Linked DNA regions of Homo sapiens. The protein of the gene in region 3 purifies or fractionates together with the protein of the main gene of each other region. This does not show direct contact. Each region holds a gene or a part of one and is shown on either strand. Other genes may lie near its edges.

What was found.
Region 1: the proteins of GPR173 (region 3) and SLC30A7 purify together in Homo sapiens (affinity purification with mass spectrometry; one large-scale study listed by BioGRID and IntAct). This does not show direct contact.
Region 2: the proteins of GPR173 (region 3) and TPCN1 purify together in Homo sapiens (affinity purification with mass spectrometry; one large-scale study listed by BioGRID and IntAct). This does not show direct contact.
Region 4: the proteins of GPR173 (region 3) and RBKS purify together in Homo sapiens (affinity purification with mass spectrometry; one large-scale study listed by BioGRID and IntAct). This does not show direct contact.

The regions. Positions count from the first base shown.
Region 1 is NC_000001.11:100,906,090-100,909,589, reverse strand, and holds part of SLC30A7 (zinc transporter 7), read right to left. Parts: intron 2,739-3,500; coding exon 2,625-2,738; intron 1-2,624. UniProt on the Homo sapiens protein: Zinc ion transporter mediating zinc entry from the cytosol into the lumen of organelles along the secretory pathway.
Region 2 is NC_000012.12:113,273,464-113,276,963, reverse strand, and holds part of TPCN1 (two pore channel protein 1), read right to left. Parts: intron 3,396-3,500; coding exon 3,296-3,395; intron 46-3,295; coding exon 1-45. UniProt on the Homo sapiens protein: Intracellular channel initially characterized as a non-selective Ca(2+)-permeable channel activated by NAADP (nicotinic acid adenine dinucleotide phosphate), it is also a voltage-gated highly-selective Na(+) channel activated directly by PI(3,5)P2 (phosphatidylinositol 3,5-bisphosphate) that senses pH changes and confers electrical excitability to organelles.
Region 3 is NC_000023.11:53,051,789-53,055,288, reverse strand, and holds part of GPR173 (probable G-protein coupled receptor 173), read right to left. Parts: intron 1-3,500. UniProt on the Homo sapiens protein: Is a receptor for the SMIM20 derived peptides Phoenixin-14 and Phoenixin-20. It mediates the Phoenixin-14 and Phoenixin-20 augmentation of gonadotropin-releasing hormone (GNRH) signaling in the hypothalamus and pituitary gland.
Region 4 is NC_000002.12:27,887,588-27,891,764, forward strand, and holds the start of RBKS (ribokinase), read right to left. Parts: upstream 2,801-4,177; 5' UTR 2,759-2,800; coding exon 2,670-2,758; exon of another isoform or gene 1,869-2,669; intron 1,169-1,868; exon of another isoform or gene 1,122-1,168; intron 1-1,121. UniProt on the Homo sapiens protein: Catalyzes the phosphorylation of ribose at O-5 in a reaction requiring ATP and magnesium. The resulting D-ribose-5-phosphate can then be used either for sythesis of nucleotides, histidine, and tryptophan, or as a component of the pentose phosphate pathway.

The DNA.
Region 1 (3,500 bases), on a different chromosome or scaffold from region 3:
CTGTGTTTACTTAACAGATTGAGTAGGTCTTAGAATTAGAACATGTAATTCATGAATGTGCTGTTGCCTAATTAAGTATGGCTAGTGTTTAGATTCTTGAGCCAGGAAGAAAAATAGAAAAGATTTAAGTATAGGTACATATGTATATACGCATGTATGTATGTATCTATCTACCTACTGGATGTATATTACTTTTAAGCTGTCTTTGCTCTTTAAAAAATAAGAGTGTGGCAAGACACAAAGATGACTTTTATATAAAGAAATACTTAAAAGTCCTTGCTTGCTCTCATATTCCCCAACTCTTTCTTCTATTGCAGAGTCAGTCAGCTACAGCAGTCATCCTGAATTGGGGTGGGAGGTTATGAGAATTCAACCCTATGCTTAACATGAATTAATCAGTGTCATTTTGATTCACTGACACCAGTAGTTTACAAATGAAGCTACTTATTACTATACCAATTATTCATAGTGTTAAATATTGTACCAGCTTTTATTCTTTAATCTTTCCCAAAAGAAAACACACACACACACACACACACACACACATAAAGAGAGGAGAGGATTAAATTAAAGGTGGAAAGAATATTATTCTCTTACATCAACTAGCTAAAGCTGAACATTAAAATCTGCTATGGTACTGAAGGTATTCAAAGCTATTTCTAAAAACCATTTTAGAGCAGGAGACAATACATTCTAAATTGGAAACAATAGAAAATCTAAGCGTTAAAGAACTGAGAATTTTCAATAGTCAGCTACTGTTTATTCAGAAAGATTGTAGAATAAGCTATTCTAATTAGATTTCTGATATATAATATAAATAAATTACTAATTTTCCAACAAAAATTATAACTTTGGATATAATCTTTCTTTAATAATCTAAAATATACTTAAGAATCTTTTAGTAGCTACTGTTTAAATTATTTGCATATCACCAATATCATGCCATAAAAAGCGTTCTTATCTGAGCTGTCAAGCTGTTTGAATTTATAGATATATAGGATCTACTGCTCTATACTATAAAATGTACAATGAGTATTTTTTGGCTCACTTTTTATAATTTCAAAAATAACCATATCCCTTGCTTATAACTAAAATCAGCAAGTTCTGCCACAGAACTCCACATCTCCTTTTTGGCAACTGTCACAATATATAGCTATTATTGTATTTTTACAGAACTGTTTGCCCAAGAGACAAGTTCCGGCAAGGCAGGAGGCATGTTTTTACATCATTAGATCATTTTTACATCATTAGAACTAGAAAAGTATTTGACTCATATGGACCCTCAATAAATATCTAAACAGAACAAGAGCATGTGAAAGAAAGAGTGTGTGCCTGCTAAAGAAAGAAGCCAAGCCAGGGAGAAAGGGGGAGCAGTTAAGGACAGAGAGTAAAAGACATAACAAGAGGCCTAAGAGACAGTACATGAAAGAAGATGGCTGTAAAAAGGACAGGGAGAGAGTGAGAGAAACTGCACCGGAAAGGGAGAGCTCAGGGAAGGAGAATCAGTGAAGGAAGGAAAGAGAGACTTGGAAAGGGAGACAAAAAAGAAATAGAGCTAAAGAAGTTAAGAGAAGAGGAGGAGGAGAGATTGAGCCTGACAGATAAAGGGTTAAAAGGTAAAGGAAAAGAGCAGGAGAAAACAAAGAATAAGACAGGAAAGGTATAGGGGGACAGAAGAAGGAAGAGAGAGGAAAAAAGAGCATGAGCACAAGCCCAAGCGACAAGAAGCAAAGACAAGAGAAGGAAAAGGGAGTTCAGGAGAAGATAAGAGAGAGTAAGAGGCTGAGGAAGGGAACAAGAGTGAGAGACAGAAAATATGAGAGACAGATGAAGAAGGAAGAGAATGTAAAAGAGCACTCACAGGGGAAATGAAGAGAAGAGGAGGAAAAGGACAGAGGGGAAGAATTAGTAAGAAAGCAGAAGAGAGAGGGAATAGGAAAGACAAAGGGGTGGGGAAGAGAAAGAAACAGAGTATGCATCCTGAGCTCTGCTTACACATATATATAGCTATACTGCAAAATATTCTATGAACTCAAAAAAGGAAACACTCAGGCAGTGTAATCAAATAATGAAAAATCCACTGCTTCCTCCAATCAGAGGTGGCAGAAATCAAATTATGCCTCTAAGATGATCCAATGTAGTCCCTTCAGCATACAGATGCTCTACAAATATTTGATTAATTGTCCAACTCGGCAAGCATATAAGAACTGTTACATAAAAGCAGAGCTAAAGAACATAATATAAAACCATATTAGAAAATGATTTTAAATAAATCAACAGCAAAGTATCCATTCAAAAAGAAAAAAGCAAAAGCAAAAAAAAATCCTATTTTCATATACTAAAACTTTCTTCTTCAAAAAAAAGTTGAGAAATTCCTCTATATGGTAACAATCTCAACAAATTACTGTAGATTCCAATTATATACTATTCAAAAACTCATCCATGAAGTCATGAAAGTGGTTACCCTTGGGGAGGTAGGAACTCGAAGAGGCCTGAGTGGGGGCTTCAAAGATTCAAAAGTTACACCTGTGTTCAATTGGTAACAAGTCACTGAGCTTAAGATTAGTGTTTTTTTGTGTATATCTTATACTTCAATAAAAAGATTTTTTTTCTTAAAGTCTTACCCATAGGAGAAAGCATCATTATCTCTCCATTTTGAAATAACAGAAGCTGCCAGTCCAGCCAAAATGGCAGTGCTATCGAAAAACATGTGAAAAGAGTCGGAAATCAAGCCTAAGCTGGAAAAGAACAAACACATTGACAAATTATAATAAAAACCAAACAGTAGGCATCTTTCTCTGAAAGTCTAAGATTCAGCCTTTGTTCATCAGGAATTAACCATCTAAAACAACAATTTAAATATGCTATATAGATAGCTTTGAGGATAAGTTTTAAATATCTAAAAAGTAAACCCTCGTACCTCCTGCACAAGGAAAAGCCCAGCTGCTGCGAGAGAGGTAGAAACAAAAACCATCTGCTGCTGGGTGAGGGGTAGGAATGTGACCACTCCTTGGTCACTTGCAAAGGTCAGCTGCCACTGAAAGAGAGGTAGGAAAAAAAAAGCCATCTACTACTGGGACGAGGCTGATACCTGCTTGCACCCAGGATCTTACAAAGCAAAGGTCTGCTTTTGTTGAGTATCCTGCTCCACCCTTTTGATACCAGGCTGAGGACAGTGGGGACAGGCTGGGAGAGAGGGAGAGCGGCAAGATCATTAATACTCACCCTGACACTGAGGTGCACAGGCTTGCCTGACTAGGGATACAACAAGAGAACCTAGTCCCACCCTCCCCACCAAGTCTTGAATAAAGTATAAGGAACAGCAAACTACCAGTGAGAGCACAAAGAGATATGTGCAGAACTTGCTAAAAGCTGAGAGTGGAGCAAGAACCCTGAAAAAATCCTGCAGTACTCCAAATCCAATACTAATCACAAAGTAGTAGGAACCACTGAAAAATTCAAAGACTGTGATTTGTGGAAATCAGCAATAACAAAACACA
Region 2 (3,500 bases), on a different chromosome or scaffold from region 3:
GCGTTTCTCAATGTCATTGAAGGTGTCGAACACCACAGCCAGAAGCTGTGGGAGAGAAGCACAGAGCCCTAGCTCAGGACCTTGAGTGGTTAGGGCAGGGAGTGCAGGGGGGTATGAGTTCATCATCTAGGCAAGGCTCTTACCCAGTCACCCCAGAGAGGCCCTGGGGAGACCCTCTCGCCTGCACCTCATGGGGTAGGAAGTCAGTCTCCCAAGTCTCAACAGAGGAAGGCCCTTTGTTCCGCTTGTAAATTTCCCTCTTCAGATACATGAAGGCATTGTTACTCCATCTTTCCCAGGTTCCCCTCCACTTTCCCACACTCCTTTCCCCAGTTCCAGCTACAGCTTGTCCCAGGCTGCGCAGGGGCAAGCCAGGGGAGGAGAGAGTAGCAAGAGGGGCGCATCTGGATTCTGAGCCCAGTCCGACTCCAGCCAGTGGCAGGCGGAGGCTGCCTGCCCACTGCCCTCCTGACCTCCGATCCAGAAGGACCCTTCCTCCCCCTGCCCCTTTGTTACTTCTCCTTGTGAGTCACTGCTTCACGTGTGGCCCAGGAAAAAGGGGAGTGAGAGGCTCTGCATGCAAGGAAATAACGTTCTAGAGTTGGCTAATACCAAAAGTTAGCTTATCAGAGGGGGATGGAAGGCCGGGGAAGAACTTGAAAGAATCCTTTTTAGAAACACTTTCTCTGTCTTTAAAAATGTTTTAAGGGAAACTCTCTGGTCCTTTCCCTCAAACTGGTCCCCCATTTTTTCCCTGTGGATCAAAGGTCAGCATGCTTTTTCTGTAAAGGGTTCGACAGCAACTGTTTTAGGCTGTGAAGGCCAAATGATCTCTGCTGCGACTACTAACCTGTGGTCATATCATGAGATCAGCCACAGACTATACATGAACAAATGGGCATGACTCTGTCCCAATGAAACTTTATTTACAAACACAGGCCATGGGCCAAATTTGGCCAGCAGGTCGTACTTTGTTGACTGCTGCCCTAAATTTTCACAGCTCTAAATATATTATGAATTAAATCAAATACAAAGAAGTACTCAACATATTTCTTCTTGGTTTTGAGGAATTAAAACAAGAAAATATTTTCTCAGGCCGGGCACGGTGGCCTGTAATCCCAGCACTTTGGGAGGCCGAGGCGGGTGGATCACAAGGTCAGGAGATTGAGACCATCCTGGCTAACAAAGCGCGAAACCCCATCTCTACTAAAACTACAAAAAAAATTAGCCGGGCGTGGTGGCGGGTGCCTGTAGTCCCAGCTACTCGGGAGGCTGAGGCAGGAGAATGGTGTGAATCCAGGAGGCGGAGGTTGTAGTGAGCCGAGATCGCGCCACTGCACTACAGCCTGGGCAACAGAGCAAGTCTCTGTCTCAAAAAAAAAAAAAGGAAATATTTTCTCCTTTTTAAGACTTAAATTTTGGCCAGGCACTGTGGCTCACACCTGTAATCCCAGCACTTTGGGAGGCTGAGTCGGACGGATCACCTGAGGTCAGGAGTTCGAGACCAGCCTGACCAACATGGCAAAACCCTGTCTCTACCAAAAATACAAAAATTAGTCGGGTGTGGCGGCATGTGCATGTGCCTGTAGTCCCAGCTACTTGGGAGGCTGAGGCAGGAGAATCGCTTGAACCTGGGAGGCGGCGGTTGCAGTGAGCTGAGATTGCGCCACTGCACTCCAGCCTGGGTGACAGAGCGAGACTCCATCTCAAAAAAGAGAAAAGGACTTAAAATTTTTTAGATTTCACAAGTCTACCTGGAAAAGATGATTTTCATTTCTATACTGGGCCTGACTGTGGTGACTGGTGTGAGAATGCTCTGCAGAAGCATAAAAATAAACACAGGACTCGATCGGAAGCCTCTCCCCGTTAGCTCTGCCATGGATGTGTGGTCTGGGCACCGGCCTAACAGCCTGGTGTCGGATGTGATCTGTGATGGCTGGGACACTCCTGGAGGCTGTCCACACCTCCACAAACACCCTCAAAGTTCTTTGAGCACAGAGGCTTTACGTTCTCCTTCACAGAACGTGTTCTATACTGGATTTTCTGATGGTTCCTGATAAGTGAGGTAGAAATACACAAGACATTTCTGGCACGTGAGTGCAACTGAACAGAGTGGTTAGGAACAGGGCTCTGGGATGAGCCTGGCCTGGCCACTCCAAGCTATGTAGCCATGGGCAAATCACACTGTCACTCTGACCCTCAGTCTCTTCATCTGCACATGGAGAACCATACTCACTACCTCCACGGTTGTGTTTATTTATTAAATTATTTCATCCTCATATGTAAAGCACTTTGCATAGTGCCAAGTGGCTAAGGCTTACTAAATGCCAGCTTTTATGGTTATTATAATATACTTGGCCTTCTTTATCTGTGGGTTCTCCATCCATGCATTCAACCAACCGCAAATCAAAAATATTCCAAAAAGAAAAGGATGGTTGTATCTGTACTGAACATGTACAGCCTTCTTTTTCTTGTCATTATCCCTAAACAATATAGTATAACAATTTTTTTTTTTTGATACAGAGTCTCGTGCTGTTGCCCAGGCTGGAGTGCAACGGCATGATCTCGGCTCACAGCAACCTCCACCTCCTGGGTTCAAGCAATTCTTCTGCCTCAGCCTCCTGAGTAGATGGGATTACAGGCACCCACCACCACGCCCAGCTAATTTTCATAAGTAGAGACAGGGTTTCACCATGTTGGCCAGGCTGGTCTCGAACTCCTGACTTCAAATGATCCACCCACCTTGGCCTCCCAAAATGCTGGGATTACAGGCGTGAGCCACCATGTCCAGCCCAGTATAACAACTATTTACATAGCTTTTACATTGTATTAGGTGTTATAGGTAATGCAGGATAATTTAAAATATATGAGAGGATGAATGTACACAGGTTATCTGCAAATACTCTGCCATTTTATATAAGGGACTTGAACATCTGTGGATCTTTGTACCTACAGGGGGTCCTGCAAACAATCCCTGTGGACACCGAGGGTCAACTGCTTATTTCTGATGTAAGAATGAAAAGGTCCCAGGGTTGCCTGGGTTTCACATCCAGCACTACCAGCATCAGCAGCATTGCCTTGGTGAGGACGCCACCCCCAGCAACTGGCTGAACTCCTGAAGTCCCGACAGGGCATTCCCTGCAACACCGCACCTGACTATGAATCTGGGACTTCCTGCCCCAACGTTCTGCCCTGAGAGGCAGAAGACAGTCCCCACTTCTCCACTCCCACAGTGCCTAGTGCTGCATGGGTAGGGGCAGGCTGCTTCAGCGTAGCCTGAGGCATAGTCACTCACCAGGTTCATGATGAAATACAGCTCGATGGAGAGGTACACGATGAAGAAGACGCAGGACCAGGGGTTCCGGGAGTAGGAGGGCATCATCACATCTGGGAAACTGTATTTGCAGAGGGTGACCCGGCGTGCTGTATCTGCCTGTCTCCATCCTCTCAGAGCACATGCCTTGCAGAGGACAGCTCCTTGTCTGCCTTCCCAGCCTCCA
Region 3 (3,500 bases):
ATCTGGATACATCCACACTCTCCTCCAACCCAGTTAAACCCAAACTCTCACACCTCATCCAGATACACATACATGCTCTTCCCACAGGAGACATGCGTGCTCACACCCCTACCACACTCAGAAACACCCCCACTCTCACACACAAACACAATCTCGACCCCCAATTCTCTCTTAATCACCATCAGCCAGATCTACTCACACTGCACACACACAATGCAGATACATCCATACTGTCTCACACACACCACCCATACACACACTCCATAGACACCCCCAATTATATACACCCCCACCCTCACCCAGATGTGCCCAAATTCTCTTTCTCATGCACACCATCACAATACACCCTATCACACACTTCCATTGCCTAGATACACTTGTGCTCTCACCTACTGACATATCATCCACATATAACCACACTTGGATCTCCCTGACCCCAATATACCCATACTCCCTCATATACATACTCCACCCAGGAAACACCCACACTCTCTTACACACACAGTACAGACACAGCCACACCAGCAAACACATACGCCACCCAGGTATCCCCCACCCTATCTCACCATCCAGATAAACCCATACTCACACACCCCTCAAATACACACATCCTCACCCATATCCCCAACCCAACTCTCACTCATACCATCCTCCACACACACAGGCCACTTTACATACAACCACACTCACCCCCCCAATCCCAAACACACCCAAATGCCTCACACGCACACCCTACCCAGAAACACCCATACACCCATGTGCTCTCTCTCTCTTTTTTTTTTTTTTAGATGGAGTCTCGCTCTGTCGCCCAGGCTGGAGTGCAGTGGCATGATCTGGGCTCACTGCAACCTCCACCTCCTGGGTTCAAGCAATTCTCCTGTCTCAGCCTCCCAAGTAGCTGGGACTACAGGCATGCACCACCACGCCCAGTTGTATTTTTAGTAGAGATGGGGTTTCACCATACTGGTCAGGCTGGTCTCAAACTCCTGACCTTAGGAGATCCACCCGCCTTGGCCTCCCAAAGTGCTGGGATTACAGGCATGAGCCACCGCACCCGGCCCATGCTCTCTCTTACACACATGCAGACCACATCCTTTCTCTCTCACCAGATATACCAGTCTACACACACACACACACACATACACACACACTCTATTAAGATACTTTCACTTTTATATATACACACTCACATCTAGATTTCTGCCTGGATGGCATAATTTGGGTCCTCTCAGTGAAAACTATTTACCAACCCTAGATATCATACAATGCCACTCTACTCTGGGCCTTTGATGGTTGGGGGGATGAGAAGGGAGGTCTTTGTGTTTCAAGGAATCTTTTTCTAAATAGGCCTCTTTTCCCCAGTAGGACATCAGCCATGATTGGTGCCCACTTCTTGAGTGTGAATAATGACAGGAATTATCCTGAGACCCCCACAAAAGCCCAGTACATGGTCAAGGCCAGAGAAGCCCCAGAATGGGGGTCACAGGCATCAGGTGTCATAGTTTGCCAATCTGCAGGATGTCTACACACTTACAGACAGACATAGTCTCGCAGGGCACCACTGACTCTCAGTCATACACACAAATACATACTGAGGTACACAGACTTGTAAGTATTCTCCCTTTCCATCCCCTTGTCAATAAGGCCCAATCCGCACAGGCCCAAGGCCAAGTATCTCTCTCTCACATCGACTGACAGACACATGCACAAATACCTACACTCATCCTTACACATGGACACACTCACACTGTACTTAGTCATACGTGTACATCCATTTACTCTTAAACATAGGCACGCATGCGTGACATACATTCACATGACATAATGCCCATGAATGACGTACATTCACTCACAAACACAGGGGTACATACAGGCATACCTTCACATGTCCACAGACAGACAGACTTTGTATCACACCCAAGGAGATGATGAACAAACATGGACACAGACAGGGAAGCTCCCAAATGTGTGCACACACACACCCAGACATGACCACATATATTTACACACTCACACACATAAACACCTAGATATGCACATGCTTGTAAATGACATGAAGTATAGATATGCAGACATTCCTAACACAGACTTGTACACACAACTGGGCATGTTCACATGCACATAGACTTGTTCATTAATTCATTCCCATATGCTTACACTCAGACATGGAAATACAAATGTACTCACAAAACATGCCCACACTATCACAGCCAGATATGTACACCATGTACATTCCTACAAGTTCATACACCCATATGAGAAGCTACACAATAAAGAGGAATCATTTACACCTACATTCTCACAGATGGACTTGGACACAAAGGTATATTCACACACATGTACACATGGAAGTACACTCACATGCACACAACTGTACATCCATACAAGAAGGACTGATCCACACTCATCACAGACACACACACATCCTCACACACATCCTCACACACACACACTTAAACACACTTGTAGGCTGAGAGTGACATGCATGGACGTTACCTTACATTGTGTTCTACAACATATGCTCCAGAACAAAGATGCATAAACACAAACACATACATGCAAATAATTAGAACTGTACAAACTGGCACATTCACACATATGAATATACCTCTGTGTATGCCTGTCTGAATGTACAGGCATACACACAGGCATATTCACACACACACACACACACACACACACACACGTGTGTGTGTGGACAGATGTGTGTGGACATATGTGTATGGACAGGCAGGCATATACAGACATGTTCAATGAAACACACACAGCCAGATGTTCACACCTACTAGCATATACACCCACATATACACTCACAATCACAGGCATATTCAAATACACATTCACACTCACATACTCAGAAATTCAGACAAAACACATAATGAGACATGCACACCCAAGTACCTACTCATGCACGCCACAGACATGTACTCACACATAACAGTGTACACACAAACACAATTAGACATATAGACAATGCATCATTTCACCTATGCACACAGCATTTTGCGTGTGTGTGTGTTTTTGTGTGCAGACAGGCATACACCCCCACACACAGCCATACTCACATACATAATCAAATGTGCACATGTAGGCATACCCACAAAATAGATTTTCATTCACACACTCTCCCCTACCCATAAAATTAGTTCTCCTTATATTAGTGTGCCCACCTATATTAACATTTCTCTAATCGGATGTGGACATAAAGGTTTGTCTACAGGTGATATACACTGGAACATGCACACACGGACATCTATATAATTTAAAATGCTGGAGAACCCACATACAGACATTCACAGAAAGTCAAAAGCCTGCTTACACAAATGCAGGACAGATACACTCATATATACACACACACATATACACCCTCTCATACATGCATGGACATGCACATATATGCCCTTAACACTCACAAGCACACCCTTTAGATGCACCTACACTCATGAGCACACACCAATATGCACAAGCAGATACAACTAGGCATTCATCTAATTGGGCAT
Region 4 (4,177 bases), on a different chromosome or scaffold from region 3:
CATGAAAAGTTTGTTGAAAAGCTGTGGGAATTAGCAGAGAGAGTCTATATGGGAATACAGTTTTTACTAATGATTTTTTACTGATGATTTTACTAATGATTTTGCTAATCATCAGTAAAATTTTTACTAGTGATTTTGCTAATCATCAGTAAAATTTTTACTAGTGATTTTGCTAATCATCAGTAAAATTTTTACTGATTCATGTGAAGAGAAGAAACTTGGATATTTTATGAAGGAAAGAATATGGCCAAGAGGAGAAATTCTTCTCTGGGCTTCAGTTTATTTATCTAAAAACTGAAGGACTAGAATAAATAATTTCCAAATTTTTCTAGCTCTGAAATAAGACTTTAAAACCCTGACGGATGCTAAAATGGGCCTTTGACACCACTCCCCTACCCCACCCCACAAAGTACTATAGTTATTTTTAGTATCTGATGGTCAAGCTTCACAGAAAGCTCTCAGTTTGGTAACAAGGAAGTAGCTCTGAATTTTAACCCTGACACTTTTATTCAGGTAGGATGTATGAGAAAATTTTCTTTTCTTTTCTTTTTTTTTTTGAGATGGAGTTTTGCTCTTGTCACCCAAGCTGGAGTGCAATGGCGCGATCTCAGCTCACTGCTACCTCCACCTCCCAGGTTCAAGCAATTCTCCTGCCTCAGCCTCCTGAGTAGCTGGAATCACAGGCGCCAGCTACCATGCCCAGCTAATTTTTGTATTTTTAGTAGAGATGGGGTTTCACCATGTTCGCTGGGCTGGTCTGAAACTCCTCACTCAGGTGATCTGCCCACCTTGGCCTCCCAAAGTGCTGGGATTACAGGTATGAGCCACTGCGCCCGGTCCACTTTAGTTTTCTTACTCTTCTGCCACTTCACACATAAAATCATGGTAAACATTTAGCTTGGTGGATTTCCCATGGAATGAATCATTTTAGATGAAGGTTTATTCCTTTATGTAACTCAACTTTATGAATTTTTGATGAAACTTTTTCTAAAGTGAAATACATGCTCTATTTTTATACAAAATTTAGTAAGTACCATATAACCTTTTCTTGAAAAGAGTCATCACCAGTAAAATCAATTGCTATATTGTGTTGTAAACACAGTAATGTTCTTTCTACACAGATGTCTGCAAACTATGGCCTGCAGGATGTTCTTGTAAGGCTTGGGAGGTAAGAATGGTTTTTACATTTAAAAAATGTTGTTAAAAAAAAATGTGACCTTGACCACATACGGCTTGCAAAGCCTAAAATATTTACTATCTGGCCCTTTACAGAAAAGTTTACTTACTCTTGCTCTAGAAAAAGATGTACAGGCCTCTTCAACAAATGTCTCCAACTAGATTCAATTTTATGCTCTGTCACCAAAGGAAAGTATTTTTATCTTGGCACAGTGTCTGACAGAATAGTTCTAATATTTGTGGAAAAATAAAGGTCATTGGTATTTAAAATTCTTTTGTTGCTTCTTCTCGTTACACAGTCTCCTACTCATCCTCAAGTTTTCGTCAGTCACTATAACTGCCTCTAGCAGTCTCTTCTCTAACTCCCACCTTTCTAATCTCAGTGGAAATTTGGTAACACAGCTTATAAATATTTTAAGGTAAGGTTAAATTGGTTACATGAAGACCCTAGACCTATTTTCTGAGTAGAATACAGGTGGTTTGGTGCAGCAATTTGGTGACTTATTTTGATTGTCCCAAAGCCTTTTTGTTTAGTTCCACGTTCTCTATTACCCTTTGGAAAAGCAACATTTCAGGACGAATGAGGTGTTACTGTAGCATACCTGATCATTTTTATAACACAAAGTAGCATTACAACTGAAAAGATATTCATCAAAAGACTGAACTGCAGTAATTGGAGTGGTAGGATTTTCTTGGAATATCTGAATTTATTACTAATTTTACAGTGAACATACATTACTTTTGTAATCAGAAAAGCTACCTTAATTTAAAAAAAAGAAAAATCAGAAGGATCTGTCTACTCAATCTTACTGACCTAACTCAACAATTTTCATTTGGCATATTTTCTATCATAATTTGATCATCGTTTTCAGAGGTTGTAAATACTGTGTTTATGTTTTTATTTTGATTCATACTTGGCTTGCTGAAAAATACGCTGTAAATATAAAATACTGCAGTAATGCCGACAATCAACATGGTGAAAGGTGACAGTCTTTTTGATTTCTGCTCAACTCATTATTTTATACAATAAGCTCAGACGAATAATACCCAATTTGGATAATGTTACGCTTGACAAAACACTTTACTTCATTTAGTCCTCACAACAACCCTGTGAGGTAGGCACATTCTCGGAGGTAAAATGACGTGGGCAAAGTTCCCTGGCTCGTTTGGGGAAAGGCTCAGCAGCCGGGCCAAGAAAGGTCTTTGGGGGCGCAAGTCTTTGGAGGGCAGGTCTTTGGGGAGCGCTTTGAGTAATATTAGAGCTTTCACTAAACCCTGGCCTATTACGTCCCCTCCCCTGAGATTTACCTTTATATACTCAAGTTCTTTCATGCCAGGAAGGTAGGCTGAAGGCTTCGAAAACCTGCAGCTCATACCCAAAGCTAGCACTGTCTATCCCTGGAGACCCAGCGCCCAAAAGCTCCACTGGGCGCATAGCGCACGGCACGCCTCCTCCCCCGAGCCGCAGACTGAGTAACTGGCCCCGGACTAACCTGACCAGGTCGGTCATGCAGGAGCCCACCACTACCACCGCCGCCACCTCCTCTTGCCACTGCCTCTGGGGTTCCCCAGACGCCGCCATCGCTCAAAGGTGCTGCTGTCCAACCTGGACGGTGACCTCTGCCCTTTGCCCGACCCCGTAACCAGAGACGCCACTCCTGCCCTCCCTAACGACGCGGGCCTTTCAGACGCCTACGCGGGTCGCCCACCTGACTGCCCGAAATCACCCCGCCCACCAAGTGTCCCCTCTTCTTCCTGGAATAGTCTCGGTGCACAGCCTCACGTAACAGGGCCCTCCTGATATGGCGAGACTCCGCGCTCCTCGTCACTCACGGGGCAGGCGCTGAGGAAGGAACTGTCAGGCACCGCGGGGACGCCTTTCCGAGCGCCCGGCTCGGCGCGGCGCGGGGGCGCGCACGCCGCCCAGCTTCGGGGCCGCAGAGGGGGCGGGGCGGGACGTCCGGGGAGTGCGCACGCATCCTGCCCGCGGCGCGCGCGCAGGTCGGTGCGTCTGTCGGGGGCGCGCTCGGGTACCTGTACCCCACGTAGTCGCCGGTTACCGATCGGACTAAGTTCCAGGTACCTGGACTGGGGCTGGTGCGGGGAGGTTGGATCCCGAGTCGCACAGGTGGCGTGGAGAACTGTGGTTTAAATATGGCCAGGGGACTCGCCTCCTCTTCCTATGGAGAAGGCCCCCGTTCCAAAGATGCCCTTCTCATCCCCATCACGCTGATTCCCTCAAGAACGAGCCCCCAAGGCCAGAGGCGTCTCTTTCTCCATATCTGGCCCATCCCCTGGTTCCTGTAAACCCCGAGTATTAGTTCCTTGTTGCCTGATGAGGGGAATCATACAGTTTGGAAGAGGGGAGAGTGTCCCTTTTTAAGACGTCCCCTAGAGTGGGGTGGTCATTCTTCGGGTCTGAGCTAACTTGTTTTTCTCGAATGTTGCCCCTTGGGGGAAATTGCTTCCCCAGTGTAACTTCCCTCGTGCGCTGTATGACGTCGACGTGACGCAGCAGGATGCCACCCCTTTCCGTTCCATGACGTCAGCAGGGCACATGTTTCCGTGTTTGTCATCTCATTTTAATTGCAAGAACCTGGATGGTGCTTTAGACGTCTTTGTAATCCCCAGGCCTCTCATCAAAGGACCTTTTGTAACTTTATTTTGGGGTAGCAGACCCTTGCAAAAATTGTAATTTTGCATTTTCCTTTTGCAATACGTCAAAATCAGGAAATACAAATTGCAGTAGTAGTATTCAGGGGACTCTGACCACCGTAAATATTTGTATATCTGGGGTGTATTATAGTGCTGCCATGCGTAAGAGTTACTACCGGTGGTGACTCCCTGTCCATGTACCCGGTTCACTGCACCAAAGGACCAGTGTTTTTGGCTAAGTGACTTCTGATTTTGGAGTCATTGTGTTCCACTCCCCACCCCCCGCCCTTTTTTTTTAGAGAAGTCACACCTCCTCATGGTTGAAATAGATTTTAATACTGCGTGA